4 linked regions of the Homo sapiens genome follow. The protein of the gene in region 4 purifies or fractionates together with the protein of the main gene of each other region. This does not show direct contact. Each region holds a gene or a part of one and is shown on either strand. Other genes may lie near its edges.

What was found. Proteins that work in one complex are often made in the same cells at the same time.
Region 1: the proteins of SLC52A1 (region 4) and SLC49A3 purify together in Homo sapiens (affinity purification with mass spectrometry; one large-scale study listed by BioGRID and IntAct). This does not show direct contact.
Region 2: the proteins of SLC52A1 (region 4) and FRMD5 purify together in Homo sapiens (affinity purification with mass spectrometry; one large-scale study listed by BioGRID and IntAct). This does not show direct contact.
Region 3: the proteins of SLC52A1 (region 4) and COL14A1 purify together in Homo sapiens (affinity purification with mass spectrometry; one large-scale study listed by BioGRID and IntAct). This does not show direct contact.

What each region holds. Positions count from the first base shown.
Region 1 is NC_000004.12:683,741-686,151, reverse strand, and holds part of SLC49A3 (solute carrier family 49 member A3), read left to right. Parts: coding exon 1-63; intron 64-240; coding exon 241-317; intron 318-1,295; coding exon 1,296-1,433; intron 1,434-1,549; coding exon of another isoform or gene 1,550-1,552; coding exon 1,553-1,669; intron 1,670-2,390; coding exon 2,391-2,411.
Region 2 is NC_000015.10:43,873,772-43,877,271, reverse strand, and holds part of FRMD5 (FERM domain-containing protein 5), read left to right. Parts: exon of another isoform or gene 1-1,466; intron 1,467-2,809; coding exon 2,810-3,387; 3' UTR 3,388-3,500. UniProt on the Homo sapiens protein: May be involved in regulation of cell migration. May regulate cell-matrix interactions via its interaction with ITGB5 and modifying ITGB5 cytoplasmic tail interactions such as with FERMT2 and TLN1.
Region 3 is NC_000008.11:120,128,102-120,131,601, forward strand, and holds part of COL14A1 (collagen alpha-1(XIV) chain isoform 1 precursor), read left to right. Parts: intron 1-3,500. UniProt on the Homo sapiens protein: Plays an adhesive role by integrating collagen bundles. It is probably associated with the surface of interstitial collagen fibrils via COL1.
Region 4 is NC_000017.11:5,032,627-5,036,607, reverse strand, and holds the start of SLC52A1 (solute carrier family 52, riboflavin transporter, member 1 precursor), read left to right. Parts: upstream 1-1,181; 5' UTR 1,182-1,747; intron 1,748-1,860; exon of another isoform or gene 1,861-1,894; 5' UTR 1,895-2,001; coding exon 2,002-2,131; intron 2,132-2,249; coding exon 2,250-3,129; intron 3,130-3,223; coding exon 3,224-3,347; intron 3,348-3,438; coding exon 3,439-3,651; 3' UTR 3,652-3,981. UniProt on the Homo sapiens protein: Plasma membrane transporter mediating the uptake by cells of the water soluble vitamin B2/riboflavin that plays a key role in biochemical oxidation-reduction reactions of the carbohydrate, lipid, and amino acid metabolism.

The sequences.
Region 1 (2,411 bases), on a different chromosome or scaffold from region 4:
AGCTGGCTGCCTTGTGGTTCCCAGAGCACCAGCGAGCCACGGCCAACATGCTCGCCACCATGTGTGAGTTCCGGGGAGGGAGGCCGCCTGCCTGGGCTCACCTCAGGGTCCACACAGACGCTCGGCTCCCCAGGCTCTCTGGCCAGGGTGGAGGAGCTGGGGCCCGGAAGGTTCTGCCTGTGGGCTGGCGATGAAGCCAGGCCACAGCCGAGCTGACACTTTGTGCATCCGCCCACCCAGCGAACCCTCTGGGCGTCCTTGTGGCCAATGTGCTGTCCCCTGTGCTGGTCAAGAAGGGTGAGGACATTCCGTTAATGGTGAGGGGTCATGAGACGCCCGTGCCTGGTCTGTGTGGTGTGTGCGCATGCACGTCTGTGTGTTCCTGATCCCAAGTGTGTCCGTGTTCCTGTGCCCGTGTGTGATTCCCGTCCCCCGCCCCGCCACCCGAGAAGGAGTCTCAGCCTGTCGCTCAGGCTGAATTGCAGTGGCGCGATCTCGGCTCACTGCAACCTCCGCCTACTGGGTTTAAGCAATTCCCCTGCCTCATCTTCCCGAGTAGCTGGGACTACAGGCGTGCGCCACCATGCTTGGCTAATTTTTTTTTTTTTGTATTTTTGGTAGAGTTGGGGTTTCACCATGTTGGCCAGGCTGGTCTCGAACTCCTGACCTCATGATCCGTCTGCCTCGGCTTCCCAAAGTGCTAGGATGACAGGCGTGAGCCACCGCGCCCGGCCAGTGTGTGATGTTTCTATGCCTGCCTGTGTGTATTGAGTGTGTGTGGTGTGTGCGGTGCGTGTCTCTGTTCCTGTGCCCATGTGTATTGTGTGATGTGTGCATATGTGTCTGTGTGTCTGTGCACATGTGTGGTGTGTACCTGTGTGTGCTCGTGCATGTGTATCAGGTGCGGGTGGTGTGTTTGTGCTTGGGGGTATGTACTGAGCGTGAGTCTGTATGCACGTGTGCCTCTGCACCCACCTGTGTCTGTGTGTTGAGCCCTATCATGGGCTGTGCAGCTGGCAGTGAGATGTAAGTCTGGAGCCTGGGGGTGCTGGGCTAACATCAGCCAGGAGGGTGTCACTGGTGAGGGATGCGTTGACAGCCAGGGGTCCCCATGAGCCCCTGGAGCAGGCCCCTCCCAGCCTGGGCCTCGCAAAGGGCAGCTGCAGACCAGAGGTTGGGAGGCAGCCGGTGGTGGGGCAGGAGGAGCTGGGAGGTGGCGCCTGGGACAGGCAGGGCTGCGGCGTGTGTGGGTGCCAGTCTGCGTGGTCTCCTTGTGCACACACACCCCTCCCCAGCTCGGTGTCTATACCATCCCTGCTGGCGTCGTCTGCCTGCTGTCCACCATCTGCCTGTGGGAGAGTGTGCCCCCCACCCCGCCCTCTGCCGGGGCTGCCAGCTCCACCTCAGAGAAGTTCCTGGATGGGCTCAAGCTGGTCAGTGCCGTGGGATCCCCGGGGTAGGGTGGATTTGGGGGTGGGGGCAAGAGGCTGAGGAGGCGATGGGTTTGGGAAGGGCCCCCGGGCTCCGGGGCTGAGACGCTCTTTCCCAGCAGCTCATGTGGAACAAGGCCTATGTCATCCTGGCTGTGTGCTTGGGGGGAATGATCGGGATCTCTGCCAGCTTCTCAGCCCTCCTGGAGCAGATCCTCTGTGCAAGCGGCCACTCCAGTGTGAGCCTGGCCCCACCCCTGGGGACCCTGCCTCTGTCATCCGCCCCATATGGCCATGGAGTCACCGCCGCCTCCAGGGTGCCCAGTGTCCGACCCTGGCGGGGGCCACATTGACACCCTTCTGTGCTGTGGGCCCTCCCGAGATGCCCTGTGTGACATTATGTCCACAGGCAGTGGAGGTGGTGGGCACAGCTGCAGTGGGGTGGGGCAGCTGTGGGACGGAGCGGAGGGACTGACGGTGCCCTGTGGATGGGAAGGTGGGGCCCCCAGGGCTCCCAGTGCCCCTTCCCAGCAAGGCCCCGCCCCTGTGGGTCTGCAGGACAGCGCCACCTTCTGGTATCCAGACGTGCAGCGGGGAGGGCCTTGCTCTGCTCGCATATCTCCGAGCTGGCCCTCTGCCCTCTGCCTTCTGGGATCAGTGCTCAGTGTAGGATTGGGGGCATGTTTCCACCTTTGCCAGGGCCACAGGCACCACGGCCCTGTGGGGCCTCTGTGGAGACAGGCTCTTCCCTTTAGCGATTGCTTTGCTCTGGGGTGGGGTGGGAAACACAAGGCAGGAAACCCTACCCCGCAGGCAGCCAGCGGTGCGTCTGGAAGCTGTGTTGCTATGCCTGGGCCTTGGGCACAGCACACGGCCCTACACTGAGCCCCCTGCCCTGACGGCATGCACCTAGGATAATGGTGGCCTCTTGGGGCCCTGGCCTCTTCTCGCCTCCTCCAGGGGTTTTCCGGCCTCTGTGGC
Region 2 (3,500 bases), on a different chromosome or scaffold from region 4:
AAACCTTTACTGAGCTGGGAATCTGGTTCAGTCTGGGATTGTCAGGGACTATTTCAGGGCAACAGAAGGGGACTGGCTTTTCTTGTCATAGGTCACAAAGGCAGAGAGAACCACACCAGCATCACCAAGATGGCCAGGAGTGGAAAATGCAGACATTGAGCCTAAAACAAGAAGCCATTTCCTTGGGAGCACTGTGATGGGGGCCGCGCTCACTCACTATATGCCCAAAGCCTCTGGCCTGGGTGGCTGCTGTTCAGTTGAGAGTGTAACCAGCTCCTGTTTTCCCTGCCAGGGCTTGAGTCCTGTGAGAACCTTGGGAAGAGAGAAGAGATAATGGGTAGTTTTAGGGGATAGAATACCCCTTCCTCCTACCAAATGTAAGAGAAATCCACCCCCGCAACAAGATCTTCTCAAACTGTTTTGTGCTCTGAAGTGTCTAAAGATAGGGGAGCTTTTCAGCCTATTCTAGACCCAGCTCCTTCTCAGAGGAAAAGAGAGGGAGCTGGCCAGGGACTACTCCCATGCCCCCTCAAGAAGAGCAGAGAGAGTTTCTACCCCATCATTCCACAAAGTCAGAACAGCTAGAACGGAGGCTGAAGAGACTGAGAGCAGCTGCAGAAATCCAAAAATATTGACCTTATAAGCTCAAGATGCTGTATGCTGGGTTTTTACAAGGATATTCGGTATTTGATGAAACCCAGTTAGGCATGACATATTCCCCTTCTCCCCATTCCTACCTCTCTTTTATTAAAAATTTTATAGTTACAGTGTCTATGTTGCCCAGCCTGGTCTTGAACCCTTTGGCTCAAGTGATCCACCTGCCTTGGCCTCCCAAAGTGCTGGGATTACAGATGGGAGCCATCGTGTCTGGCCCATTCCTGCCTCTTAAAGCCCTCCACCCAACAGGCAGACTTGAGACTCAAACCGTGGTCCCAGCTCTGCATCAGGGGTAGTTTGGAATTCAGATTCTTTCAAACTGGGGTAAAAACCAGGCCCAGAGTTCAGAGTTCAACAACAAGCTTCCAAGATGCCGCCCAAAGGAAAAAGTGGTTCTGGAAAAGCGGGGAAAGGGGGTGCAGCCTCTGGGAGTGACAGTGCTGACAAGAAGGCTCAAGGTCCCAAAGGTGGTGGCAATGCAGTAAAGGTCAGACACATTCTATGGGAAAAACATGGCAAAATCATGGAAGCCATGGAAAAGTTAAAGTCTGGGATGAGATTCAATGAAGTGGCCACACAATATAGTGAAGATAAAGCCAGGCAAGGGGGCGTCTTGGGTTGGATGACCAGAGGGTCCATGGTGGGACCATTTCAAGAAGCAGCATTTGCCTTGCCTATAAGTGTGATGGATAAGCCTGTGTTTACAGACCCAGCAGTTAAGACAAAATTTGGATATCATATTATTATGGTTGAAGGAAGAAAATAAAATCATATGAAAGACTGAAAGAAAAAAAAAAAAAAAAAAAAAAACTAGGCCCAGGACACCAAAGGCAAGAAAGGCAGAATCTTTAACAAATTAGGGGCTGGGTGCGGTGGCTCACACCTATAATCCCAGCACTTTGGGAGGCCAGGAGTTCTAGACCAGCCTGGCCAAAATGGCAAAACCCCGTCTCTACTCAAAATAAAAAAATTAGCTGGGTGTGGTGGCAGACACCTGTATTCCCAGCTACTCAGAAGGCTGAGACACAAGAATCGCTGGAACCCGGGAGGCAGAAGTTGTAGTGAGCTGAGATTGCACCACTGCATTCCAACCTGGGCGACAGAGTAAGACTCCATCTCAAAACACACACAAACTAGGCCAAAACCGTAAGCAAAAAGCAAAGAAAAACTCTTCTAAAATGGCCACTGTGATTTCTGTGCCTTCTCTTGTTTCATACATACATATATATATATATATATATATATATATATTTTTTTTTTTTTTTTGAGACAGTCTTTCTCTGTTGCTCAGGTTGGAATGCAGTGGTGTGATCTTGGTTTACTGCAGCTTTGACCTCCCAGGCTCAAGCAATCTGCCCCCCTACAAAGTAGCTGGGACAACAGGCATGCACTACCACACCTGGCTTCCTCCTCGCCCCGAGGCAGAGTCTTGCTCTGTCACCCAGGCTGGAGTGCAGTGGCACGATCTCTGCTAACTATAACCTCTGCCTCCCAAGTTCAAGCAGTTCTCCTGCCTCCCCTCCTGAGTAGCTGGGATTACAGATGCCCGCCACCACACGTGGCTGATTTTTGTATTTTTAGTACAGACGGGGTTTCACCATGTTGGCCAGGCTGGTCTCGAACTCCTTACCTCATGATCCGCCCGCCTTGGCCTCCCAAAGTGCTGGGATTACAGGCATGAGGCACCACGCCCAGCCTTTTTCTTTTTTTTAAGATGGAATCTTACTCACTCTGTTGCCGAGGATGGAGTGTAATAGTGCGATCTCAGCTCACTGCAACCTCCGCCTCCCGGGTTCAAGCGATTCTCCTGCCTCAGCCCACCAAGTAACTGGGATTACAGGCATGTGCCACCAGGCCCGGCTGATTTTTGTATTTTTAGTTGAGATGGGGTTTCACCACGTTGGCCAGGCTGGTCTGGAACTCCTGACCTCAAGCGATCCACCCATCTCGGCCTCCCAAAGTGCTGAGATGACAGGTGTAAGCCACCATACCCGGCCTGTCGTCTTCTCGATATATCAAAATAGAGTGCAGTGGCTACTGCTGCTGGTCATGTGGGTGTGCAGAATGGTACCCAATAAAACACAATGGGTGCTACTGGAAAGCAAAGGGTGCATTGGGACACAGCCTACTCATGTTCCTTTTGCCTTTCTAGGCCTAGAGTCCTTACGGGACAGTGCCCATTCCACACCAGTGCGTTCCACTTCCCATGGGGACACCTTCCTGCCTCACGTGAGAAGCAGCCGGACAGATAGCAATGAGCGAGTAGCTGTGATTGCAGACGAGGCCTACAGCCCTGCAGACAGCGTGCTGCCCACCCCTGTGGCTGAGCACAGCCTGGAGCTGATGTTGCTTTCCCGGCAGATCAATGGAGCCACCTGCAGCATTGAGGAGGAGAAGGAATCTGAAGCCAGCACCCCAACTGCTACAGAGGTGGAGGCCCTTGGGGGAGAGCTGAGGGCCCTGTGTCAGGGGCACAGCGGGCCCGAGGAGGAACAGGTGAATAAGTTTGTTCTAAGTGTCCTCCGTTTGCTCCTTGTGACCATGGGACTCCTCTTTGTTTTGCTCCTCCTCCTGATCATCCTTACCGAGTCTGACCTTGACATTGCCTTTTTCCGTGATATCCGCCAGACCCCCGAGTTTGAACAATTCCACTATCAATACTTTTGTCCCCTCAGGCGATGGTTTGCCTGCAAAATCCGCTCAGTGGTGAGCCTGCTCATTGACACCTGAGAAGGCATGACTCCTCCCAAAAACTAGCCAGGTGGACCAAGGAACCCGGCTACCCATTCCCAGCAATGGGACCCATCGCGGAACCATCGGCACATATACCAAGTCCTCCTCTC
Region 3 (3,500 bases), on a different chromosome or scaffold from region 4:
CTTGACTTCTTCTGTGAGTAAATAAAAAATGGCAGGGATCCAGTTACTTTTCTGTATACACTAAGCTTTTGTTGTAGACCAAACTGCATCCTGTTCCTGTGACGTGTGTGTGTGTGTGTGCGCGCGCGTGTGTGTGTGTGTGTGTGTGTGTGTGTGTGTGTTGGAAATGTTGGCATATTTTTTGAGTACTTACTGGGTATCTGCCTTTTTCTCTTTTAGAAACACACTTAAGTCTCCCAGTTACTTGGGGAAGAAAATAATATTCCTCCTTTAGCAATCACTGAGCTTCAAGGATAAAAAGCACCTTGTATGGGATCACAAAGACAGCAAGTGACAGAAATATGATTAAGAAAAGTCTATATGGGGCCAGGCACAGTGGCTCATGCCTGTAATCCCAGCATTTTGGGAGGATCACCTGAGGTCAAGAGTTCAAGGCCAGCATGGCCAACATGGCAAAACCCCATCTCTACTAAAAATATAAAGATTAGCTGGGCGTGGTGGTGGGCACCTGTAATCCTAGATACTTGGGAGGCTGAGGCGGGCATTGAGAATATAAAAGAGAGTCTATAGGAAATTCTGAGCGTTCTTTAAGTCAAAGTTTAGAGCCTAGACTCCCCGTTTCCTCCAGGTAATTTTTTTATTAGTGGTCTTGTTGCACTTTTCTCTCTATGGGCCTTTGTCGGAGCTACCCTGAAAGGTGTCTCTGTGAATTTTAGAGAGCAATGTTTTGCCTCATTTCTCCTAGAAATTATCTGAGTTGCTTACAAAAATTGGTCCAGAGGTAGGTTGTGCTTTGCTAAGTCCATTGCAATGTCTTAGGGTGTGTCTTTATCTAGGAGCAGTCAGAGGGCCCATTATTGGATAAAGATCTATTTCTGGGTGGCCTTTTGTCTCTGGCTTTTGCAAAGAGGAGAACATTTAATTGATGTCTAAAAATGATAATTTGCTGCAGGTTGTTTGCTTCTGTTCTTCCTTCACTTCCCAGCCCTGTCTCCTGCCATGTGCTGGCACTGTGCTAAGCATTCAAAATACAGTAGGGAATAATATGCTTTGGCAAATGGAAATGCCAATAGCTAACTACGGGGTAGTGTTCAATGCTGCAGAATGGAAAATAAAGATTACTACTATAGGAAACAGGAAGAGCACCTGACCCCAGACTTGGAAGATCAAGGAAAACTTCCTGAAGGAAAGGATGTCTAAACTGAGATGTAAAGCTACCCTTTATACTGATTACAGATGTACATTGTAGTTAAAAACAGTCTCCCATTTCTTTGACAGATGAACTATGTCAGTGTTTGAAAAAAATGAAGAGAGGGAAAAAAAGCCAGGTGAAGAACATTCTTGTGTCAAGCAGCTGTCATTCCAATTTGCCATACTTTTGGAATGGCTCTACCTTCTGTCATTTAGAACATACAGCATGAGTTTAATACTGATTGAGCAGCTGTATAACTGAGGCTAATTTTCAGTCAAATTCCTTGCGTTTGAGTGATTCACAGGGATGCTGCTAACCTAATATAGTTTTTCTGTAAATTAGAAAAAGGAAGCCTCTCTGTGCAAACCTATGGCATGGGAGAAGAAAACAGTTCTGTTTTATCTGGATAACACAGCTTTGCACTGGGGCACACAACTTGGGAGCAGAGTGTCTGCCAATTTCAAGTGTCATTGACCCTAGGCGAAGTGTAAATTGTTTAGTTCATTAACTGCGAGCTGTACACACATTAGCCCTGATCATTCAGTCATTAACTATTAAATCAATCAATATTTACTGATTGCCTATGTGTGTTGAACTTTCTTGAATATGGGTTAAACTGCCCATCTAGATGTCTGATAGTGCCCAAGATCTAGAAGGTTAAAACAGTGACTGAGGCCATGAAACTAGCTGGAGAACCTCAATAAGATGAGGGACAGATGCAGTTCATCAGAGGCCTGGTTGGTGAAGGATCAAGTTTGGTGCTACTGCTGGTTGGTGCCCATCCACAAACTGTTACCTGCCTCTGATAAGACAAAAACTACACGATGATGTAAATCAAATATGTCAATAAGCGCACTGTTCACCAAGCACACTGTTAGTTCAACGGAGATTATCATTATTTTTTCATAGCAAAGCTTTTCTGACGAAGGAAGCAAAAGAATACATAGACTTGCATATTGGCATAAGCTCCTTATCTCACTGAGGACCAGTAACAGTTCATAGACCAGCTACTTTGAGTAGCACCAATCTAGGCAACATTGGCCCACATTTGGCCAGATAGGTCATCTTGTATCCTTTCTGCCTTTATACTGTTTTCTTTTCTCTCTTTTCCCCTTATTTTTTCTTTGTTTCCTCTGCCTCCTCATCTTCTTCCTCTTCATCATTTTCCCTTTTCTTCTTCCTTCCCTTATTCCTACTTTACTGTTGCTTTCCCCTTCCATTTGATATTTCTCTCTTAAACAAAAATCACTGTGCATTTTATTCAGCTTTTTGTCTTTTAAAAAGCAAAATAAAGAAAGCCTACGTGTACAAGGAAAGAAATGTAAAATGGAAACATCACTAACTTGGAGAAAATTAAAAGAATTTAATGGTAATTAAAATAAAAATATGCCAATAAATTAGAAAGCCTGGATGAAATGGATTCTTTTTTTTCCAACTTTTATTTTAAGTTTGGGGATACAAGAACAGGTTTATGACATAGGTATATGTGTCATGCTGAAGTTTAGGGTATGAATGATCCCATCACCCAGGTAGTGAGCATAGTACCCAAAAGGTAGTTCTTCAACCCTCACCCCCTTTTTTTTCCTTCCCTCGCTATTAGTCCCCACTGTCTGTTTTCTCATCTTTATGTCCATGTGTACTGTTTAGCTCCTACTTATAAGTGAGAATATGTGGTACTTGGTTTTCTGTTCCTCTGTTAATTCACTTAGGATAATGGCCTCCAGCTGCATCCATGTTGCCGCAAAGGACATGATTTTGTTCTTTGTTATGGCTGTGTAGTATTCCATGGTGTATATGTACCACATTTTCTTTATCCAGTCCACCATTGATGAGCATCTAGGTTGATTTCACATCTTTGTTATTGTGAAGAGTGCTGTGATGAACATAGGAGTGCATGTGTCTTTTTGGTAGAATTATTTATATTCCTTTGCGTATATATCCATTAGTGGGATTACTGAGTTGAACGGTAGTTTTTTAAGTTCTTTGTGAAATCTCCAAACTGCTTTCCACAGTGGCTGAACCAATTTACATTCCTACCAACAGTGTATAAGCATTTCCTTTTCTCTGCAAATCTGTTTTTTTTTTTTTGACTTTTTAATGATAGCCATTCTGATTGGTGTGAGATAGTATCTCAATGTGATTTTGATTTGCATCTTTCTGATGATTAGCAATGTGGAGCATTTTTTCATGTTTGTTGGCTGCTTGTATGTCTTCTTTTGAGAAATATCCGCTCATGCCCTTTGCCTACATTTTTAATAGGGTTATTTGTTTTTTGCTTGTTGAATAATTTAAGTTCATTATAGATTCT
Region 4 (3,981 bases):
AAACCCCATCTCTACGAAAAATACAAAAATTATCCAGGCGTGGTGGCAGGCGTCTGTAATCCCAGCTACTCGGGAGTCTGAGGCAGGAGAATGGCGTGAACCTGGAAGGTGGAGCTTGCAGTGAGCCGAGATCGCGCCACTGCACTCCAGCCTGGGCGACAGAGCGAGACTCCGTCTCAAAAAAAAAAAAAAAAAAAAAAAAAAGCAAAAATTAGCCAGGTGTGCACACCACGTCCAGCTAATTTTTTTTCAACCATTTAAAAGTGTAAAAACAGCTGGCCAGGCACGGTGGCTCACGCCTGTAATCCCCAACACTTTGGGAGGCCGGGGCAGGTGGATCACCTGAGGTCAGGAGTTCAAGACCAGCCTAGCTAACATGGCGAGACCCTGTGCACTAAAAAGACAAAAATTAGCAGGGCATGGTGGTGGGCGCCTGTAATTCCAGCTACTCGGGAGGCTGAGGCAGGAGAATGGCTTGAACCCGGGAGGCAGAGGCTCGTGCCATTGCACTCCAGCCTGGGCAACAAGAGCAAAACTCCGTCTCAAAAAAAAAAAAAAAAAAAAAAAGTGTAAAAACAGCTGAGCGTGGCGGTAGCTAGGTGTGGTGCGTCTGTAGTCCCAGCTACTTGGGAGGCTGAGGTAGGAAGATTGCTTGAGCCCAGGAGTGCCAAGCCAGCCTGAGCAACATAGTGAGACCTTGTCTCTACCAAAAAAAAAAAAAAAAAAAAAAAAAATTAGCTGGACATGGTGATGCTCGCCTGTGGTCCCAGCTACTTGTGGGGGGGTGGGGAGAGGCTGAGTGGGAGGATCCCTTGAGCTTGGGAGGTTGAGGCTGTAGTGAGCCGCGATCGCGCACCGCTGCGCTCTAGCCTGGGTGACAGAGTGAGACCCCGTCTCAAAATTAATTAATTAATTAAAACAACAAACAACAAAACCCCAGCTGTGTGGGCTCTGGGCTGGGCCGCCTCCCCGGCGGAGGGGGCTCCCTCTCAGGCAGACCGCCAGCCGCTGGGTCCGGGGACTGCCGGATCCGGAGGTGCGGGGACCCCTGCGCACCTGGCGGCTCCCGGGATGCCCCCCTGAGGCAGGCGGGAGGGCAGCACGGAGACGCCCCTCCGGGCAGAGCCCGCCCCAGCCACTCCCCTCTCCAACTCGACCTGCCTCAGCAAGTCCTGAGTGTCGCAAAAGCGCTAGGGTTGCAAGTGGCACCAGAGACGTGCCCTTGTCCCGGGGTCCATTTGAGGGTGAGCGTGTTGGTGCCGAGCTGTTTTTTTGTTTTGTTTTGTTTTGTTTTGTTTTTGAGACCGAATCTCGTTCTGTCGCCCAGGCTGGAATGCAGTGGTGTGATCTTGGCTCACTGCAACCTCCACCTTCCGGGTTCAAGTGAATCTCCTGCCTCAGCCTCCTGAGTAGCTGGGATTACTGGCACCCACCACCACGACCAGCTAATTTTTGTATTTTTAGTAGAGACGGGTTTTCACCATGTTGGCCAGGATGGTCTCAATCTCCTGACCTCAGGCGATCTGCCTTCCTCAGCTTCCCAAAGTGCTGGGATTACAGGTGTGAGCCACCGCACCCGGCCAGTGCTGAGCTGTTTTGACAACTTGGACCCCGGGTCCTCTGTGGGTAGGAAAATCAGCTCCCTCTTTGCTCCTCTGGGGCAGCTGCACCTCGGGCCAGCTTTCTGCCTGTCTGCCTGCCGGCACTGCTGGGTCGCTGTACCCAAACGCACAGCCGGTGCCCCGTGGTAAGTCCTGGCTCCCCACCTTCCCCGCCCGCCCCCGGCCACCTCTCCCTCCAGTTGCCCTGGTCTTAGCAGTCTGACCGACTTGTCTTCTGACTCCGGTTCTGTCCCACCAGCCTATTACCTGCCAGCCTGTCTGTTTCCCTCCAGCTAGAAGGTCTTCAGTTTCCAGAAGAACCAAAGCATCTTTGGACCTACCTAGGGAAGGACCTGCCTGTGACCTTTGCCCTGTCCTGGAGGGTCCAGCTTTGGGCTGAATGGCAGCACCCACGCTGGGCCGTCTGGTGCTGACCCACCTGCTGGTGGCCCTTTTTGGCATGGGCTCCTGGGCTGCTGTGAACGGGATCTGGGTGGAGCTGCCTGTGGTGGTAAAAGACCTTCCAGAGGGTGAGTGGGAGGGAGGTACAGGGAAGCGTGGGGCAGGTATGCCCAGAAAGGTGGCCTGTGGCAGCTCTTTGTCCCTTAGCCACTGTGCTCCTGACATGGCATCATTCCTTCCCTGCAGGTTGGAGCCTCCCCTCATACCTCTCTGTGGTTGTGGCGCTGGGAAACCTGGGTCTGCTGGTGGTGACCCTGTGGAGGCAGCTGGCCCCGGGCAAGGGCGAGCAGGTCCCCATCCAGGTGGTACAGGTGCTGAGTGTAGTGGGCACAGCCCTGCTGGCCCCTCTGTGGCACCACGTGGCCCCAGTGGCAGGGCAGCTCCACTCTGTGGCCTTCCTAACTCTGGCCTTGGTGTTGGCAATGGCCTGTTGTACCTCTAATGTCACTTTCCTGCCCTTCCTGAGCCACCTGCCACCTCCTTTCTTACGGTCTTTCTTCCTGGGTCAGGGTCTCAGTGCCCTACTCCCCTGTGTGCTGGCCCTAGTGCAAGGTGTGGGCCGCCTCGAGTGCCCACCAGCGCCCACCAATGGCACCTCTGGGCCTCCCCTCGACTTCCCTGAGCGTTTTCCTGCCAGCACCTTCTTCTGGGCACTGACTGCCCTTCTGGTCACTTCAGCTGCCGCCTTCCGGGGTCTCCTGTTGCTGTTGCCATCACTACCCTCTGTAACCACAGGGGGCTCAGGGCCTGAACTTCAACTGGGATCCCCAGGAGCAGAGGAGGAAGAGAAGGAGGAAGAAGAGGCTTTGCCATTGCAGGAGCCACCGAGCCAGGCAGCAGGCACCATCCCTGGCCCAGACCCTGAGGCCCATCAGCTGTTCTCAGCCCATGGTGCCTTCCTGCTGGGCCTGATGGCCTTCACCAGTGCCGTGACCAATGGCGTGCTGCCTTCTGTGCAGAGCTTTTCCTGTTTGCCCTATGGGCGCCTGGCCTACCACCTGGCTGTGGTGCTGGGCAGTGCCGCCAACCCCCTTGCCTGCTTCCTGGCCATGGGCGTGCTGTGCAGGTGCAAAAGGGTCCCCAGGCTTGGTGGGTGGAACTTAAGGTTGGGGTCCAGGTCCCAGAACAGCCAGCCCTGAGTCTCTGCTCATCCCCAACAGGTCCCTGGCAGGGCTGGTTGGTCTTTCTCTGCTGGGCATGCTCTTTGGGGCCTACCTGATGGCACTGGCAATCCTGAGCCCCTGCCCACCCCTGGTGGGCACCACTGCAGGGGTGGTCCTTGTGGTGAGCAAGTGGAGACATGAAGTGGGGAGGAGGGTGTCCCCTGGAGCAAGTGCATGTCATGCTCAGCCTGCTGCTGTGTCCTCCCTTGCAGGTGCTGTCGTGGGTGCTGTGTCTGTGTGTGTTCTCATATGTGAAGGTGGCTGCAAGCTCCCTGCTGCATGGTGGGGGTCGGCCGGCATTGCTGGCAGCTGGTGTGGCCATCCAAGTGGGCTCCCTGCTTGGTGCCGGTGCCATGTTCCCTCCCACCAGCATCTACCACGTGTTTCAAAGCAGAAAGGACTGTGTAGACCCCTGTGGCCCCTGAGCCTGGGCAGGTGGGGACCCAACTCCACCCCACCTGTCTTCATCGTGAGGCTGCCACAGTGCCTGACTACTTGTGGCCCAGGCAGGCTTCCCCCAACACAGGAACGCTCATGGACACCTGCACACTCCACAGAAGACGTTGGCATGTGAGGCCAGGGTGGGCACCAAAGACCAGGCCCAGAGCCAGGGGACAGGTTGGGGCTGTGGGCTTGGACCCAGGGCCTGAGACCTTTGTGGGATTTGTGCAATAAAGTGTTTTTATTTAAAACCAAAAACAAAAACAAAAGCCTAATGAAAACCTTATAAGAAATATATAATGAAATCAGGAAAC